Homo sapiens: one gene and its partner. The protein of the gene in region 1 purifies or fractionates together with the protein of each later gene. This does not show direct contact. Each region holds a gene or a part of one and is shown in the gene's direction. Other genes may lie near its edges.

Region 1 (4,110 bases):
GGCATCAGAGTGGGCCACGTGACCCTTACCCTGGCAGGACAGGGCAGGGGGTTACTGTTGGCCCAAGCCAAGGGAGTTCAGAGGCCAGGCATTCAGGAAGCCAGAGTCATTGGCACAGGTGGGCAGAAGATGCCAGAGGGGCCCTGTATTAGTCAGGGTTCTTTTAAAGGGACAGAACTAATAGGATATATATGGTTGTGTATATATATAAAGTTAATACTTAATAAACTCCCCTTTATATATATATAAAATATATATATAAATTATATATATATTAATTATATATATAATATATATATAAATTATATATATATTAATTATATATATAATATATATATAAATTATATATATATTAATTATATATAATATATATATAAATTATATATATATTAATTATATATAATATATATATAAATTATATATATATTAATTATATATATAATATATATATAAATTATATATATATTAATTATATATATATAAAATATATATAATTTATATATATAAAATATATATAATTTATATATATAAATTATATATAAAATATATATAATTTATATATATAAATTATATATAAAATATATATAATTTATATATAAAAATTATATATAAATTATATATATAAAATATATATATAAATTGTATATATATAAAATATACATATAAATTATATATATATAAAATATACATAAATTATATATATAAATAATATGTATATAAAAGGGAGTTTATTAAGTATTAACTTACATGATCACAAGGGCCCACAACAGGCTGTCTGCCAAACTGAGGAGCAAGGGGAGCCAGTCTGAGAGTCCCAAAACTGAAGAACTTGGAGTCTGATGTTCGAGGGCAGGAGGCATCTAGCATGGGAGACAGATGTAGACTAGGAGGCTAGGACCATCTCTCCTTTTCACGTTTTTCTGCCTGCTTTATATTCGCTGGCAGCTGATTAGATTGTGCCCACCAGATTAAAGGTGGATCTGCCTTCCCCAGCCCACTGACTCAAATGTTAATCTCTTTTGGAAACACCCTCACAGACACACCCAGGATCAATACTTGGTGTCCTTCGATCAAATCAAGTTGACACTCAGTATTAACCATTGCAGGCCCCTGACTCTGAGGGCACAGCAGGAGGCATTTGCTTGCTCTCTGTGCCCCTGTGAGAGCTGTTTAGACCAAAGGCCGGAGGCTGGCAAGTGGGAGATGTCCTCACTGGGACAAGACACAGGTGCTGAATTACATCACAAAGCGTAACCTCCCTGCAGGGCGTGGACTCAGAGGGGCAAGAGAGACCGCAGACCAGGACCCACAGAGACCCTTGACTGGGCCACAGGCATGAACTAAGAGTGCTGAAGACCTAGGAGAACCACTGGTCAGGTCAGCTCCCAGCTCCACAGGGAGTAAGAAGGAGCTGCAGGCACAGCAGGCTGAAAGTCCACCAAGGGCTGAGGCCACAAGGCCTCTGGGGCAGCCACAGTTTTCATGATCACATCATACAGGACTGAGAAGCAGATAACAAGAGTGACGCTCACAGGGGTAGGCATAGACACACTGGGGCCGAAGGGGAGAGGAACTCTCCCTAGACACACAGATTGCTCTCAGGGTAAGGAGGGGAGGCTGGTAGAGAGACTCCTTAACTGGCATTCCTGGGTGGGTTTCCATGGAGAAAGAGAGGACAAACCCCAAAGAGTGACCCTAATGGCCTGTCTTGAATCCAGCTGGGCTGACGCTAACAGGAGGCAGTGTGTGGCTCGAAGATTCTTGAACCCACAGCAGCAGCTGCGGCCACCCCATCCTGCCCACAGCTCCAGCCCTGAGACGACGAGGAGGAGAGTCGACTTTGCCTCTTGCCCAAGGGACCATGCCCAGGTGCCGGTGGCTCTCCCTGATCCTCCTCACCATTCCCCTGGCCCTGGTGGCCAGGAAAGACCCAAAAAAGAATGAGACAGGGGTGCTGAGGAAATTAAAACCCGTCAATGCCTCAAATGCCAACGTGAAGCAGTGTCTGTGGTTTGCCATGCAAGAATACAACAAAGAGAGCGAGGACAAGTATGTCTTCCTGGTGGTCAAGACACTGCAAGCCCAGCTTCAGGTAAAGGTGTCTTTCCATATAGGTGGACATTTGCATATGGTGGCACAGTTGAAGCCAGACTGAAAGAGTGGGCATATAAGAAAAATATCACTATGCAAAAATCCTAAATATGTGAATGCTTAAGAGCCTAGACACTTCCACAGCATCAATAAGGCAGTGAACACACAGAGCACTTTCTACAAACGCTTGCGCTTTTGTTCTAAGTCCTTCGCATAGATTAACTCATTTAAACCCCAAACTGCAAATCAAATGTTCATGTATTTGCTAAGGTTGGGAGACAGATAGAATGCTAGCCATGAGAAAAGATCTGATAAAGGTGAGTCCAGGTGAACCTGGACCCAACTAGCAGACACTCCTTCATCTCCTGCTGTAATCCTTTAATGCCAGATGAAAACAGATTTAAATGGACATCACAAGTAGCCTTGATTGCATTCAGTCACTAATGAGTTCAACAAATACTAATGTCCTGCTATAAACCTACTGCTGTTCTACTCACTAAAGACTCAGCAGAGAACAAGACAGGCAAACTCATGCCTGCATGGGTCCTCATGGACTGTGTGCTGAGCTGGTGGGAGGGGCTTTGGGTGGGGAAACCCCAGAGGATGGGAGGTTTCACAGGAATCTGAGGGACTGGGGCCTAATGTGGCTGAGGGGGCTGTCCCCTGGTCAGGCCTGTGTGAACCTGAGCATCTCAGGCCCAGGAGAGCTGATGGTTCTGAAGAGCCCACCTTTCACCTCTCAGTCCTCACTGAGCATGCAGCATGCCCTGGGCTTGGGGACAGGAAATGGAATGAGAAGGCCTTGCTTTCAAGGAGGTGACAAACTGGAGAGGAGTCTTTACTCAAGTGTCCAGCTCCAGGAGCCTATGGAGTCCTGACTGATCTTGTTGTACACAGGGCTCCAGGCAGTGGGCATCTTAGCCTTCCGCTAAAGCTCTGTCTGGGGGTGAGGGAGGAAGGAAAGAGGAAAGGACGAGAGTAAGAGTAATTTTTTTTTTTTGTCAAAACTTTAAAAAAGTACAACTCTTTTGAATAAAATTGCATAATTGCTAACCAACAGGTCACAAATCTTCTGGAATACCTTATTGATGTAGAAATTGCCCGCAGCGATTGCAGAAAGCCTTTAAGCACTAATGAAATCTGCGCCATTCAAGAAAACTCCAAGCTGAAAAGGGTAGGTGATGAACCACTCATCTGTGACGGCCTAGGCAGCTCTGAACCCAAGAGAGAAAGCTGAGGCACGCAGACCTTCTCTTTGAGGTCTGGGTGGCTCCCAGTGTTTAGCCCCAGATAGCCAACCCTGTGGCCTTTATAGCAGAAGATCCAGGGCCACGGAACGTGGTGGAACCCTCTGAGCTTCTTTCTCATCCTTCATCCTGCAGAAAGGATGTTGTCAAGACCACTCTTATCTCAAGGGCTCCATTGACTTCTGGCCTTTTGATGCAGGCACACTGGACAACACATAATCACCAAAAGCCTGTCCTCTTGGGTCCAGACAAGCCACCCACTATTGCTGGGCCCATGGTCACTCATCCCCATACAGACACAAAAGGAACTTCATTCATTCACTCATCCACTCATAGAAAATTACTGAGCACCAGGTGCTACGTGCTTTGCACCAGGTCTATTCTGGGTGCTGGAGATTAAGCAATGACTAAGCCAGAGGGTGGCCCCACCCTCCTGGGTTTACAGTTGATTTTTGCTGGGGTCAGTCCAGGTTTCCAGGAAGGTTGGGGCAAACCCACAGACTCCCAACAAAAGGAGGACTTGGCCCAGGGGCTTTTGGCTTCAAGCCTGTATTTTTTATCTCAGAGCAGCTCATAGGCCAGTACTTGGTCCCAGACAGATGAAGGCCTGAGCATTCTGCAGGTTTGCCCAACAGGTGCATCACTGTCCCTGTCTTTACATTGGTGGTTCTCCAATGTGAGCAGGCATCACAATCACTTGGAGGTATTGACAAACCCTGATGACCGGGTTCCACCGGCAGAGTTTCCAATTCAGGAAATGGGATCTAAGAAT
Region 2 (3,500 bases), on another chromosome or scaffold:
CTTGCACCCTGCAGAGATCCAGAAGCTGGTGCTGGAGGGCCGTGTGGGCGAGGCCATCGAGACCACCCAGCGCTTCTACCCAGGGCTGCTGGAGCACAACCCCAACCTCCTCTTCATGCTCAAGTAAGTCTTGGGCACCCCCAGCTCCCCCAGAGTCCAGCCCCTCTCAGCTGGTGGTGGGAACGTCAACCTGGACCACAACCAGAGCATTATTGCTCCGCTCCCTCCACAGGTGCCGGCAGTTTGTGGAGATGGTGAATGGGACGGACAGTGAGGTCCGAAGTTTGAGCTCCCGAAGCCCCAAGTCCCAGGACAGCTACCCTGGCTCCCCCAGCCTCAGTCCCCGACATGGCCCCAGTAGTTCCCACATGCACAACACAGGTCAGCCACTCTCCAGAGGGCTCTGGGAAGAACTGGTGTGGAGGAGAGAGGCCACTCCACATACCCTTTCCTGGGCTGGGCTCAGGGCTCACTGCTGGATTTGGGAGAAGGGAAATGGGACCACTGTGGTTGTTCTTGGGGCTTCATTTCATGGGAAGCTGCCCCTCCTCTTCTGACTGTCACCCTGGCTTCTAGGAGCAGACAGTCCCAGCTGTAGCAATGGCGTCGCGTCCACCAAGAGCAAACAGAACCACAGTAAATACCCTGCACCCAGCTCCTCATCCTCGTCCTCCTCCTCCTCCTCGTCCTCTTCCCCATCCTCCGTCAATTACTCCGAGTCCAACTCAACAGACTCCACCAAGTCCCAGCACCACAGCAGTACCAGTAACCAGGAGACCAGGTGCCTGCCTTGCTCTGCTTCCTCCTCTGCCTTCTGCCTTATGCCAGCTGGGCCCATTGCAGTCTGTCCTTTGAGCGCCCTGCCCTTCACCCCCAGCCTCCATCTCAGGTCTGTGCCTGGAGTCCTAATTTTTGGCCCACCGGGCCAGACATCAGCTCTGGCTTCTGGCCCTCCCCACGATTTAGCTGCACTTTCTTTGGCCTTGGCTTTCTCCAGAGGCTCCAATGATGCCAGGCTGAGGATGTGGTCTCCTCCAAAGAGGCCGGGCCTGTGAGAACCCTCAGGGTCCATCATGAGGGAGCTTTCCCTGGCTCTGGCTTGTAGACAGCCAGGTTGGGCAGGCAGGGGAAGCTAAGCCGCAGGCTAGAGCTCTAGGTGGCTCTCAGCATCCCCAGGTACACCTCAAGGCTGACCTGAGTTTGGCTTCCAACCAAGGCCACAGAGCTGCCCATGGGGGCCATGGGGCCCAGTCATTAGGTTGGGGGATATGTAGAAGAGGTGTGTGAACTCAGAGGAGGGCCAGGGAGGGGAGAATCACAGAGGCAGCACTGGGGCAAGGGTGGGAATCAGGTGACAGGCCTCTGAGGATAGCTGGTGTCACAGTAGGGGCCAAGTGCTGAAGACTTGGAAGCCTGAGCTGTCCTTTCATGTTCCTGGGGGTCCTCGGTTCACCCACAGCAACCCATGGCTACAGCTTGAAAGGAGGCCCAACCAGGCTGCTCCAACCACACCCCCTGGGCCAACTCCCACCTCAACCCCTCCCCACAGCGACAGTGAGATGGAGATGGAGGCAGAGCACTACCCCAACGGTGTGCTAGGAAGCATGTCCACACGCATTGTTAATGGTGCCTACAAGCATGAGGACCTGCAGACGGATGAGTCCAGCATGGGTGAGAGCCACGGCCCGGTGTGCTATTCTTTGAGGGCAGTGTGCAGTCTGGGTGCCCTCTTCCCCTGGGAGGGGCTGGGGTAGGCAGGCTTTGGCATCTTGAGAAGCTTCAGCCAGACCTGGTCCACAGCCTCCTTAGCCGATTGTGAATGGGTCCTTGAGGTGGCTCCAAATGTACGAAGGCCCTGGCCTGTGCCAAGACCACCTATGTTTGAGGCTGGAGGGTGTTCGAGAGCATGGGCACCCTAATGAGCACCCTGCGTCTGTGCAGGCTGGGAAGAGGGACAACTTCCAAGTCCTCCCTAAATCCTAGACTGTGCGCCAGGTGAATGAAGAGAAGAACGCCTTGACTGTAGCTGCCTCACCTGTTCCTCCCAGCCCTGCCTGCCTCTGGCAGAAGCTGCAGCCCACCCGGGGTCCTTCCTGCCCCACCCTAGTCCTGCCCTTCCCTCTTCACCCCTCCTAACACGTTCTCCACTGGGTTCTGGATGCAGATGACAGGCATCCTCGGCGGCAGCTCTGCGGGGGCAACCAGGCTGCCACAGAAAGGATCATTCTGTTTGGCCGCGAGTTGCAGGCATTGAGTGAGCAGTTGGGCCGGGAGTACGGCAAGAATTTGGCCCACACAGAGATGCTGCAGGTACAGGATGAGCCGGGCCTCATGCAGAGCAGGCCCCATTTGGTGTTGGGGGCAGGGTGGCTCTGGGAGAGTCCAGGGGGCAGCAGGAAAGAGTGGGCTCCAGCCAGGTCTGCAGAGGGAAGTGGGGCATCTGGGCCCACTGGACATGTGCCCTCCACACCTAGGCTCTGGGGAGAGTACAGCCCTGCCCGACCCTACACCCCACATTCCAGGCTGGGCATCATGCAGGGCCCTGTCTCCCTCTGGAGCCACGGGTAGCAGGGTGAGCTATGGTGTGTGCCACAGTCCTCTCAAGAATGCCCTGTCCTGTAGGATGCCTTCAGCCTGCTGGCATACTCAGACCCCTGGAGCTGCCCAGTTGGCCAGCAGCTTGACCCCATCCAGAGGGAACCTGTGTGTGCTGCCCTCAACAGCGCCATTTTAGGTGAGTGAATCTATTTATTATTATTATTAGAGACAGAGTCTGCTCTGTAGCCCAAGCTGGAGTGCAGTGGCACAATCTTGGCTCACAGCAATCTCCACCTCTGCCTCCTGGGTTTAAGCAATTTTCGTGCCTCAGCCTCCTGAGTAGCTGGGACTAAGGTGCGTGCCACCACGCCTGGCTAGTTGTTGTATTTTTAGTAGAGACGGGTTTTGCCATGTTGGCCAGGTTGGTCTCGAACTCCTGGCCTCAGGTGATCTGCCCGCCTTAGCCTCCCAAAGTGCTGGGATTACAGGTGTGAGCCACCATGCCTGGCCTAGGTGAGTGGATCTAACAAAAACAGAAGCTAGCCCATAGCTACCTGGGTGGTTCCCAACCCCCACCCCAATTGGCCCCAGAAAGAGCTGATGTTTATCCACACTGGGGCAGCAAGCTCTGTACAGGCCCTCTCTGGTGACTCATAGGACTCCTGGGCTCCCATGGTTGAACCTAAACCTTGACCTCTGTCTGCCCAGCTGAGTTCATGATGGGTCCTAGGCCATGGCAGTAGGCCCAGGCCAGCCCAGCGCTCTACATGGGGCTAAGGTCCTCAGGTTCCTGGCATGACTTCAGGGCCATGGCCTGGTGGCTGGGACACACTTACACAGAGGTACTGAACACTCTGTTCCAAGAGAATCTGTCCACTGCCCCCTCCTTCCACCCCCAAGGGAACTTTGACCTGGGCCCAAGCCCTGGGCAGGCCAGTGACCAGGCCTTGTCTTTCCTCCAC

The links.
Region 2: the proteins of CST8 (region 1) and RANBP10 purify together in Homo sapiens (affinity purification with mass spectrometry; one large-scale study listed by BioGRID and IntAct). This does not show direct contact.

What each region holds. Positions count from the first base shown.
Region 1 is NC_000020.11:23,489,807-23,493,916, forward strand, and holds the start of CST8 (cystatin-8 precursor), read left to right. Parts: upstream 1-1,310; 5' UTR 1,311-1,536; exon of another isoform or gene 1,537-1,603; intron 1,604-1,718; 5' UTR 1,719-1,861; coding exon 1,862-2,092; intron 2,093-3,151; coding exon 3,152-3,265; intron 3,266-4,110. UniProt on the Homo sapiens protein: Performs a specialized role during sperm development and maturation.
Region 2 is NC_000016.10:67,726,561-67,730,060, reverse strand, and holds part of RANBP10 (ran-binding protein 10), read left to right. Parts: intron 1-14; coding exon 15-123; intron 124-232; coding exon 233-381; intron 382-576; coding exon 577-781; intron 782-1,459; coding exon of another isoform or gene 1,460-1,549; coding exon 1,550-1,671; intron 1,672-2,164; coding exon 2,165-2,310; intron 2,311-2,622; coding exon 2,623-2,734; intron 2,735-3,500. UniProt on the Homo sapiens protein: May act as an adapter protein to couple membrane receptors to intracellular signaling pathways.